2 separate regions of the Homo sapiens genome follow, and region 1 is linked to region 2. The links come from fine-mapping of genetic effects on plasma protein levels. A gene starts in region 2. The other region holds a variant in brackets. All regions are shown on one strand. Distances are from middle to middle.

Region 1 (5,379 bases), 45 kb after region 2:
AAGAAGGCTTCATTGCATTCTTGAATTCAGGCTGTTGCACTCCGCCCCCCACAACTCTGTCTAAATTGTTGCTACCCAGTTTATATCTGCATCATATTTTTTGTTGTTGTTTCTCCAATGCAGTATGTAGTGGTGGCAGGTACAGATCATAAAACAAATGGATAATCAGATTCCTTTTTCCCTGGTGGTAATTTTTAAACTTTTCAAAATTAATGCTAATGGATATAGAGGAATGGGATATACATTTCCATGCATTTTTATGACCAAACAGAAAACCGACCCCTGAGGGTGACATATTTACTATTCTCTACTACTAGGGGTGCTTCAAGGGAAGAGTTTTTGAAGCCCTGTGGTTTAAACAAAAAGAGAACATACCCCACCCCACCCTGAACAAACAGCAGCTGGGCAGATTTCATCTCACAAATGGAAATGGGAGCAAACAAATTTTTTCAAAGCGATTTTATAAAGAGTGGGCCTGTTTAGTTGGGTTTTTTGAGCCAGGATTAATATTACAAGCTGGGGAGCTCTGTGACATGGCTGTGTCGTTGGCTTTGCCATACCGCCTACCTCCTGGGGGAAGGCAGAGGAAAGTGCTGCTATTCAGAAGCAATTTTACTTCTGCCTCGGCCTTCTCACTTCTCACTGAAGTGATTTACAGCCAGCCTGGACCCAGTGCCCAAGCCTGAGCTGAGTTACATGTCATGTTGGAAAGATCTTCCCCAAATCAAGGTCTTATCTAGAGCTTGCCTGGGATATTTTTTCATTTCTAATTTATGTAACTTTCTAATATGTTTAGCATTTGCCCTTCCCTTGTCTCCATCCTGCTTATTAAGGTGAATTTGCATACAAATGGGACCTTGGTCTTCAGGACCATTCACCTGACACTTGATCCCACGAGGCGACCACTGTCTACTGTTGATACCATGAGGATGACCCACAGAAGTCATGTCTCTCTGCAAACTAGAGGCAAGGCCTTAATTAGAAGAAGCCTTGTGTGTTAAAATGATGGGGTGAATCAAATCAGCAAAGGCATTTAGCATTAACTTAGGAGGGCAGAATACTCCTTCCTGTTGAGTGGGTCGTCCTAGGTCACAACAATTTTAATTTGCCTTCGATAGATGGATCTTGAAGAAAGTGTACAAAAAGTATATTTGTGATGGTGTTGTTTGGGAGTACGTTTTGACTCAAAGAGTTAACTGTGACATTTTACTTTGGCTCCTGGTCTATTTTTTGCTTAACATCTACCTTTGAATGGGTAATAGTCATCTCTATAAATTACCTTCGAAAGATTGAACAATTGTGGAGAATCAGAGAAATGAGCCCCTTGCTATCACCCTGTTGCAGTCGGCTTTAATCCTCTGATCTCCTGGCGTTTCACCCTCTCACTGGCAGCCACCTTCCTTATTTACCCAAATCTTGTTAACTTGGGTAGGAATTCCCACTGAGAGGACAAATGTGGTCCCAGTTGACTGGTCGCTGAAAGTCTATTAGGTTGGAGAGTATTTATTTTCTACCCTAAAGGGTTTGAAACTTAGGGAAATTTTGATCAACAAGAAAATAACAGCTTTCAAGATTGTCCTGACAGTTAAGCTGTCTTAGCAGAGAATCACAGGATTTGATAGTCATGGAGATTAGTTCTCAAATTTCAATGAGAAAAGTTCATAGGAGATGGAGTGAGGAAAGAAAACTTGTGCTGATTTTGGTCAGGCTACCTTTGCTGGGGAAAAATTCATTCCATAAAATTATTTTAAAACGTAAATACTATTTAGCTTTATCTGGTGTAATACTTTGCATCTATAATTTTTTTGTTTTGTTTTGTTTTTGAGACAGAGTCTTGCTCTGTCACCCAGGCTGGAGTACAGTGGCATGATCTTGGCTCACTGCAACCTCTGCCTCCCAGGTTCAAGCGATTATCCTGCCTCAGCCTCCCAAGTAGCTGGGATTACAGGCACGTGCCACGGCACCCAGCTAATTTTTGTATTTTTAGTAGAGACAGGGTTTTGCCATGTTGGCCAGGATGGTCTTGAACTCCTGACCTCAGGTGATCTGCCCGCCTCGACCTCCCAAAGTGCTGGGATTACAGGCATGAGCCACAGCGCCCGGCCTGCATCTATAATTTGATTTAACCTTGCAACTTTATTAATTGAATATTATGATCACCATTTTATAGATGAGGAAATGGAGACTCCAAGGGTTTAATTACTTGCCCAAGAGTCTACAGCTATCTACCAACAAAACTGGGATTGGAGCCAGCTGTCTTACCATTACATCCCCGCTGCCTCCTAAAGCACAGCTCTAGTTCATACTAAATGTATTACATAGGCCGACTCATTTATCTTTACATGGGTCTCATGCATTACAAGAAGGGGGCCACTATTTTAACTCAATTCAAAAATGTTAAAATCAAAATTCCCAAAATGTACTTGGTTTATAATATATCATAAAATAAGTAATCTGACCAATTGAGCCTCCCAACTCGAAGACCAAGAACTTCTTTCTACTCCCAAACCATGCAGAAGGAAGCTGAGTTCCCCACTGGCCAATGCTGTCTAATTCTCTTAAATGATTCAGATGTAAAAGAGGAAATGGCATCCGTCTAATTAACACTGCCTGGTTAAATATAGCTGCCAAGGGACAGCCTTGGGACAGTGTTTACAGAATAGTCTTTCCAGCCCCTCAGGCCTCAAGTTACAGATGATAGCAAGCCTTCCCTCCTTATCAGCTGCAAACAGAGATGCCCCCAAAAGTGGTGTCAGGCCAGGATGATGAAAGGAGAAGGGAAAGGCTGCGGATGGCCTTCATTTCCTGCTCCTGGCATCTGGGGATTCCGAGAATGATCCCAGGACCTAGATCCTATAGATTCCGGCAGCTCTTCCTGCAAACACAAGCCCTTGTTGTGTGCCTGAGCCTTGCTCTCCGGCCTGGAGACATCC[A/G]TCTGCCCACTCTCCTAGGAACTGCTGATTACCAGGAAGCACCATCGGCTCTGCTGCCCTCCCCCTGGCAGAGAGGCACAATGACCACATTATTTCTCTTCCAGCTTCACGTTACAGCATGGAAGCTGTTGCCAAGTTTGATTTCACTGCTTCAGGTGAGGATGAACTGAGCTTTCACACTGGAGATGTTTTGAAGGTAGGTGACCTGGGGCCCCAGGGGAGCAGTAGGGAGTTTCAGTTACTCAGTAATCTGACAGTCCCTGCCTTTGTCTCTTAAGAACTGCATGTGGTTCCTTTTAAAAAGAGAAGTTCACCTTGATTCCCTTTGTGCACCCTTATACCAGACACCAACCAGGCCGGGTGATGGAAATACAGTCGGCATAAGCCACCATCCTTGTCCTGGGAGGTTCGTAGTCTGGAGAGGGGAACACATCCACCCAAAGGGCTGTTACAGATGTTCTTGGCTAAGTTCTCAGGGAGCACAGGTGAGGGAACAAGTGATTCCATCTTGAAAGATGGGGGTTGTAGGAGTGTGTGCAATGTGAACGTCAGGAATGCACTGAAGGTGACTTGGGCTTTTAGCTAAAGCTCAGAGATGTGCAAGCCCATGCTGAATGCAGGGAGCAGCGCCAGGCTCAGCAGAGCTGGAACTCAGGAGGAGAGGTTGTGGGTGGAGACAGCTTGGGAAAGGCAGCCACAGAGGACATGGCTCAACAAAGGCCATGCACACCTGGCCACTCAGGGGCTTTTTAAAGCTTGTCCTCATCCTGCACTTGAGTTGTAGTGGCCACTTGCTGAGCTGAAGTGGCCTTGGACTTCTCCCACATTCATGCACCATACTTTCAGACTCTGCATCTTAGCCCTTGGGTTTTTGTTTTGTTTTGTTTGTTTGCAAAAGAGCATAAGCCCTTCAAAAGGGCATTTGGGAGTGTGTGGAGCCAGACCCCCTCTGCCTGACCTCAGAGCACCCTCAGATAGCCTGATCCCTGGTCCTCAGATAGCCTGATCCCTGGTCCTCAGATAGCCTGATCCCTGGTCCTCAGCAGTCCCAATGAGCCTTCTCGGACGCCCAGCAACACTGAGGCCATTAGTGTCTCACCACCGAGAATTAGGTTTGTTATACAAAGAACCTTGTCAGCATGTGAGAGGGTGACATTGAAAGTGTCTGAGGAGCACAAAACACCACAGAATGGCTTCTTTTGGAATATGAACATGCCCATTAGGTAGCCTTCTAACTGCTCTCAACTTTCAAGATCTAGTAACATAGTGGCAAAGCATAGGCCTTCACAAACTTAAAATATGAGTTGGGCCTCCTGACCCAGGAAAACCTGTCTGTCACTGCTTTGGGGTCTTACGAAGCTCCTGGAGGGACTTGCCAAGCAGCGAGAAGTTCCTGCCTTCTCTGTGGGGCACTGTGATCATGTGACTGTCATCCACTGGAGACCATCCTTGTACCAACTTCCACCCTCGTCTTCCATTACAAAGAGAACCTGGTATCTTAAGTTTTCTCTATTCCTCAGAAAAGGAAAAAGGAAAGAAAAAAAAAAAAAACTTTGCTCAACTCTGCTTCCCAATCCAGCTCCTGATTTCTTTCCTCCCCTTTGTTGCTAATACTGGGAAGAATTCTCTACACTGGGCGTGCTTCACTTCCTCACTTCCCACTCATTCCACAACTCTCTGGAATCTGCCTTTTACCCTCCCTGCAACATTCTCTTGAAGTTCACCAGTGATCTCCTTAATGTGTAGTATAATGACCCTATGGAAATGTCTGTGGGATTGACACTGCTAACTGGCCCTCTCCTGGAAGCCCCTTTCTCCCTGGCTTTGGCAGCACCACCCTCTCCGGGTTCTTCTCCTCCCTTCCTGACCACTCCTACAGGTCTCATTTCCAAGCATTCTTTTTCCTCTCTTGATCCTGAAATATACACTTCCCTGAAGGTGCTGCCTTTGGCTTTCTGATTTTTCTTCTCACTCTGAGCCACCTCATCCACTTCTTCAGCTGCAACTATCACCTCTGTGCCAAAGACCCTCAAGTCTGTGGCTCGTGTTCTAGCTCTGGCCTTGCTCTTGAACTCCAGACCCAGACTTCCAATTGTCTGCTGGATGTCCCCACATGAACTCCAGCCCCTAACTCAGGATGCCGAGAATCACTCAAACCCCCATGCCCATCTCACCCCCATTTCCACCCAAGCCACTCTTCTTTCCATGTTCTAATTATTATCCTAGGTCAGTCACAAGCTAGAAGCCCCAATTATCATCAATGCCTCCTTTACCAAATCCTGGTGACCAGTAACCAACGTCTCCTGAGCTCCTGTTCAGGGCCAGGATCTAGCTAAGTGGTTTGCAGGCATGATTTCATCATCTCAGCAAACCTGTGAGGTAGGCATTCATTTCCCCTCCATTTCATAGATGAGAAACTGAGGCTAGGGATTAAATCACATGTCCA
Region 2 (5,379 bases):
CTCACATTAGGGTCTTTATTCTTAGGATCTGCCTTTGCACTCGTTCAGTTACAGAGCTGTTATGAAATAAACCACTCAAGTGGCCTTGCTTCCCTCCCACTATGCTCTACATAACATGTCTGTCAATCAGTACTTACTACCAAAATAACTTGCCTTTGAGATTTTTCTGTTCTGCAATCTGTCCCATGCTTGTAAGGGGAAGGATTATATTCTGCTCCCTGGGGAGTAGTGCCTGGTGCAAAATTAGCTTCCTCATTAGGGTACAAGCTGAAAACACCATGATACTTTCCATGTAACACCATTCAACATTTTCCCTTCGCTCCCACTCCCCAACCATAGAATTTTAGGGACTCCTTTAACCATTTCAAAACCATCGACTTGGGAGCTATCAAAGAATAAGGACTGTAGCCAGAGGATTTCAGCATTTAAAAACTTGGCAATAGAGCTGTTCAGTGTAATGATCCAAGAAGGTCCTTAGAAGGCTGAATAATTCTGAGGTCAAGGTTGAGACGTTATTATTTTTAAAGTAGCAAGATGTTGTTATTTTTAAATTTTATCTTTATAATGTGGAAATAGCAGAGATCCTTTTCAGATATAACCAGGATTTAAGAAAATTTGACAAAGTTGCATTAATAAAAAGAAAGCCTGTTATTAAGGAGCTACAGGGCCGGGTGCGGTGGCTCATGCCTGTAATCCCAGCACTTTGGGAGGTTGAGGCGGGCGGATCATCTGAGTTCAGGAGTTCAAGACCAGCCTGGCCGACATGGTGAAACCCCATCTCTACTAAAAATACAAAAAAAATTAGCCAGGCATGGTGGCAGGTACCTGTAATCCCAGCTACTTGGGAGGCTGAAGCAAGAGAATCACTTGTACTCGGGAGACGGAGGTTGCAGTGAGCCAAGATCATGCCATTGCACTCCAGCCTGGGCAAGAAGAGTGAAACTCCGTCTCAAAAAAAAAAAGGAGTTATGGATAGAAAATTACTTCCTTTAACTCATTCGACAAATATTTACTGAGCATTTTCTGTCACCTTGACACTTTGCTGATTCTTCTTTTCTATTTCAATAAAAATGTTGGGCAATTATAACCAAGGAAAAGGTTTTAAGAAAGTAAATTTTAAGCAAGGTTTAGATATAAAGAAGCAAAGAGATGGAAAAGGATGCCGTTTCACATTGCAGAAAAAGTTTAAATTTTAGAACCCCAAATTGAATCTCTCCTTGACACTCTCCTCTTGGTATTCCAGGGATTAATGCTAGGAACATCCCAGTGAGCCAACATTTCCCTCCTCATCTTGGATCCAGTCCCCAAACTCTGAATGGTGCCACTTAGCAAGTAGCAATGTCTCTAATTTTCTGTAAAAGATGCAACGTTGGCAATCCATTTTCTAGCAAGAGCAAAGAGAAAGGAAGAGGCCTTCACAAGTTGCAGTTGATATAGGGGGAAGGGTGAGTGGTACATTTAAAGGTAAGAACTAAGGAAGTTGAAGGTAACAAAACTCAAGGTCAATGGAAAGTCTTAAATCCCAGAAAGCCTTCAGTCTAAGACTCAACAGAAATTGAAGTCCCAGAAATTGAAGGAACTGGTTCCACCTCATGCTGGACTGTGGCAAACCTGGGGTGAGAATGCATCCCAGCTCAGAATGTTTCTTCTTTTTTTGTCAAGAGTAATATTAGAGGCTGAGTGTATGAACAAAGCATCTTTCCTGGGATTTTAACATTGTGAGTGATCGAGGGTGCTCTTAAATAAGTTCCCCCAAGAAGCCCTAATGTTCCTCTGGATGCATGATTATACTAAGAGAATAAGAGTTTTCCTTAAGATCAGCTTGCTGATGGACCATATCAAGAACTATAAATTTTCTTATGTGAACACAAGTGTTCAGGGGGGATATTGTTAAAACTGAAACCAAGCATAAAGAAGCAAAAGTGTTTCAGTGAACCTCCTGCATTTTAGTTCAACTCTGGCAGCAAGAAAACAAAACCACATAATCTAAGGCTCACGCCCAACTCTCCGAAGCCCCATATGTGCTAGTTCCTGTGTGGTTTGCCTACAGACTGCAGGGCTGACTAGGGTTAGTTTGGAGGAGGGAGTAAGAGGTGGGGAGGAGGAGGCACAGTTAATGGATCTGTAAACTTGCACCCTCTTTCAGAGTGGTACATGGAAGACAGCACAAAGTGGATCCATACTCTGAAATGCAGTAACTCTGATGCTTGAATTTGTCTCCCTTCTTGCCAGAAAGGATTCTAATAACTCGGTGTCAAAGCCAAGACATAAACTCAACCCCTTCTCTTCCAAAAGGTATGTCATTATACAACATCTGTACATATACTCTAGAAACTTTGAACAGTTTTATAATTTGCAGAATGTTCTGTATGAGTTAATTAAAATGAATCTCACTAGTTCTCTAAATATTGCTTTTAAGTCCCATCAGCTAAGGTCTCTAAACCTTTTGCTGTGACAATGTTTGTGGTGATGGGATTTGACTTCTATCAAATGAACTGGGAGAACACTTGTTCCTTACCCAGTCCATAACACAAAAATCTCCACAAACTGGCTTCAGAAGCATCTCAGGGAAAGATTTTCGACCTTGGGATCATGGAGGTAAAATTCCACTTCACCATGGTCAGAATTTAATCCAAATTGGAAGGGATTGGAGGGGGTGGTAGAGGGCTGAGCAGTGATGAATGAACACTAGCACTCTGAGGTCAGGATTTCTCTCTTTGCTTGAATTTCTAGTTCTGTTCGCATTTTTGTTACCTGTACAAAGGACACCAGTTTTCATTCCTTTACGAAAAGAAAACTTTATGTTGAAGTGTATTTTGGAAGGGTATTGTCTCTCTTCGTACTAGCCGTTAGGCTCCATCCCTATGACTGTCTCTGGTTTAGGCGTCCAGTCTGAAGATAGCTGCTTTGTGTTCTTTGTCCCAACTCTTCCTGAACGTGAGGATTGAACATACCAACCAAAGGTTTCACTAATTTAAAATGTACTGTATTGCCCTGACAGGTATACTGTCAAAAAAAATTTACCGTATTTATCTACCTGGAATTAGGCCTTCTTAATAAAGTGTATGCAGCATAATTTGCACACTATTGAACATACACATCCCTAGATAAACTAGGAGTGGGAAGTGTTTTAGATCTAAACATCCAATGGGAAAAATTTCGTGTGTTCTCGTTATGTTATCTGAGGATGGGAAACTTCAGGTCGCAGAATCTTTTGTTCTATGCAGCAATGTTTGTCATAAACGGTTTAGTTCTTTAGTGGCTCCTTTTTGTTTCTTATTTTTGGTTTCGGAAAGAGTATTTAGCAGAAGTTACTCTCCTTTAACAATCCAGTATTTTATGTAAAACTTTATAGAATAATTTTATAGTGATTCTCTTTACAAAACCATCTGCTATTAAATAAGGAACACTGTGTAAATAGAGGACCACCTAAGTATATTTAATTTTCAAATACGAAAAAAATCTGACTCATACCCTTTTTTGTTTTTTTGTAAAAGAGAGGTGGCCCTATATTATTGAATAAAACTGCTTTTTTAGATTGAACTTGGAGTGTCTCCCATGTGGTAAACTGAAATCTTATTCTCCCCAAATTGTAATAGATTTTATCTTTTTAAAAATGACTTTACTGAAGCAGAGGAGAAGGAGATGATCAATCTATTCAATATGAAGAAATATCTCTGTTGCTAATACAATATCCTTTTGAATATCTCCCACATCTTAGGCCCTGGTGAAAATCCCTTTCAATTGTTCTGTCTACCTCGTAGGGATGTTGTAAGAATAAATGAGTTAACATAGATATGAAGTGCCTTAGGAAAAAGGCTCTATAAAAATGCAAGGCGATATCATGATTAGTTGTTTCTTTGACTCTTGATCATTTTCTTCCCACTTCTTATACAAAATGTCTCTCACTTATTTCCTGAAGCCATCTCTTTTAGAACTATTGCTTCCTAGAAGAGCTGAAAATGATCCTAGTTCCAACATATTTATTGATTCCCAGATAATAACACCCACTGGTGTTGATGACTGACAGGGTTCATGCCTAAGCTTGAGTAGAACTTGCCCTTTTTTCCTGGGTCAAGAAAAGTCTGCAATTGTTCGAAAATGTGTCAGTAAGTGTGATTCCATCACGATTTCTTAAATAAGTAACAGTTGCTGCTGGATAATCCTGGGGGCAGATGATTCATTTTTGTGCCCCTATCAAACAAACTCAAAACTTGTTAAAGAATCTTTATAAGTTGTTTGAATCAAACAATAGGGTCGCTAGGTCCCCATTTTGTCCATTTGAGGTATTTGCCCAGCATACCTTGGTCTGTAAAGAAATAGCACAGCCTTGGCTGGGCGCGGTGGCTCATGCTTATAATCCTAGCACTTTGGGAGGCCGAGGTGGGCAGATCTCCAAAAATAAATAATAATAATGATAATAACACAGCCTCATGAGTCTTTTTTTTTTTTTTTTTTTTGAGACAGGGTCTCACTCTGTCACTCAGGCTGGAGTACAGTGGCACAATCACAGCTCACTGCAGCCTCAACTACCCTGGGTTTAGTGATCCTCCCACCTCAGCCTCTCAAGTAGCTGAGACTACAGGTACACACCACCACACCTGGCTAATATTGTATTTTTAGTAGAGACAGGGTTTTGCCATGTTTCCCAGGCTGGTCTTGAACTCCTGAACTCAAGCGATTCGCCTGCCTCAGCCTCCCAAAGTGTTGGGATTACAGGTGTGAACCACTACACCTGGCCTGCCCTTTCTTTTCTCTTAAAAATTCTTAAGAAAGCATGGTCCTGTTTAACAAATAAGCATTTTACAAACATTTATCGATCAATTACTATATGCCAGGCCTGGCACTAGGCACCAAGTCCTCTTCAACAGTGTTAACATTAAGTTTCAATAAACTTGAGTCAGTAGGAATTCAGTAAATAATTTTTAAAGATTGTTTTCTTTTTAAATATGTATTTATAAACAAAAATTTTAGAGAATTAAAAGAAACTATCACGAAGTGCATGATGATAAAAGTCTTATATACTCTCCAAAGAAAATGTTAAGACATACCTTAAGGAGATAGTGAAGAACAGCCGGGCACAGTGGCTCACACCTGTAATCCCAGCACTTGGGCGGCCAAAGCAGGCAGATCATCTGAGGTCAGGAGTTGGAGACAAGCCTGGCCAACATGTTGAAACCCTGTCTCTACCAAAATACAAAAATTAGCCGGGCATGATGGCAGGCGCCTGTAATCCCAGCTACTTGGGAGACTGAGGCACGAGAATTGCTTGAACCCGGGAGGCAGATGTTTCAGCGAGCTGAGATCGTGCCACTGCACTCCAGCCTGGTCGACAGAGCAAGATCCTGTCTCAAAAAGAGGAAAAAAGAAAAGAAAAGA

Direction of the effects. Positions count from the first base shown, and alleles are read on the strand shown. Strength reflects both the effect of a copy and how common the allele is.
With allele A in place of G in region 1, the plasma level of the protein whose gene starts at base 2,049 in region 2 is lower (weak association).

The links. PIP is the chance, under the fine-mapping model, that this variant and not a neighbour inherited with it causes the effect. The UK Biobank Pharma Proteomics Project read protein levels with antibody pairs (Olink). The fine-mapping took linkage between variants from a reference panel, not from the people measured, so its PIPs are less certain.
Region 1: its variant is fine-mapped to the plasma level of the GRAP2 protein (UK Biobank, PIP above 0.99).

Annotation. Positions count from the first base shown.
Region 1 is chr22:39,944,056-39,949,434 of GRCh38, forward strand. It overlaps GRAP2 (GRB2 related adaptor protein 2), which reads left to right. Exons shown (of 8, transcript NM_004810.4): 2 at 3,038-3,129. The coding sequence starts at 3,052. Among named protein-coding and RNA genes, the nearest start is that of TMA7B, 14 kb to the right of the region's middle. The variant A/G (reference allele first, on the strand shown) is at 2,934.
Region 2 is chr22:39,899,036-39,904,414 of GRCh38, forward strand. It overlaps GRAP2 (GRB2 related adaptor protein 2), which reads left to right and starts at 2,049. Exons shown (of 8, transcript NM_004810.4): 1 at 2,049-2,295.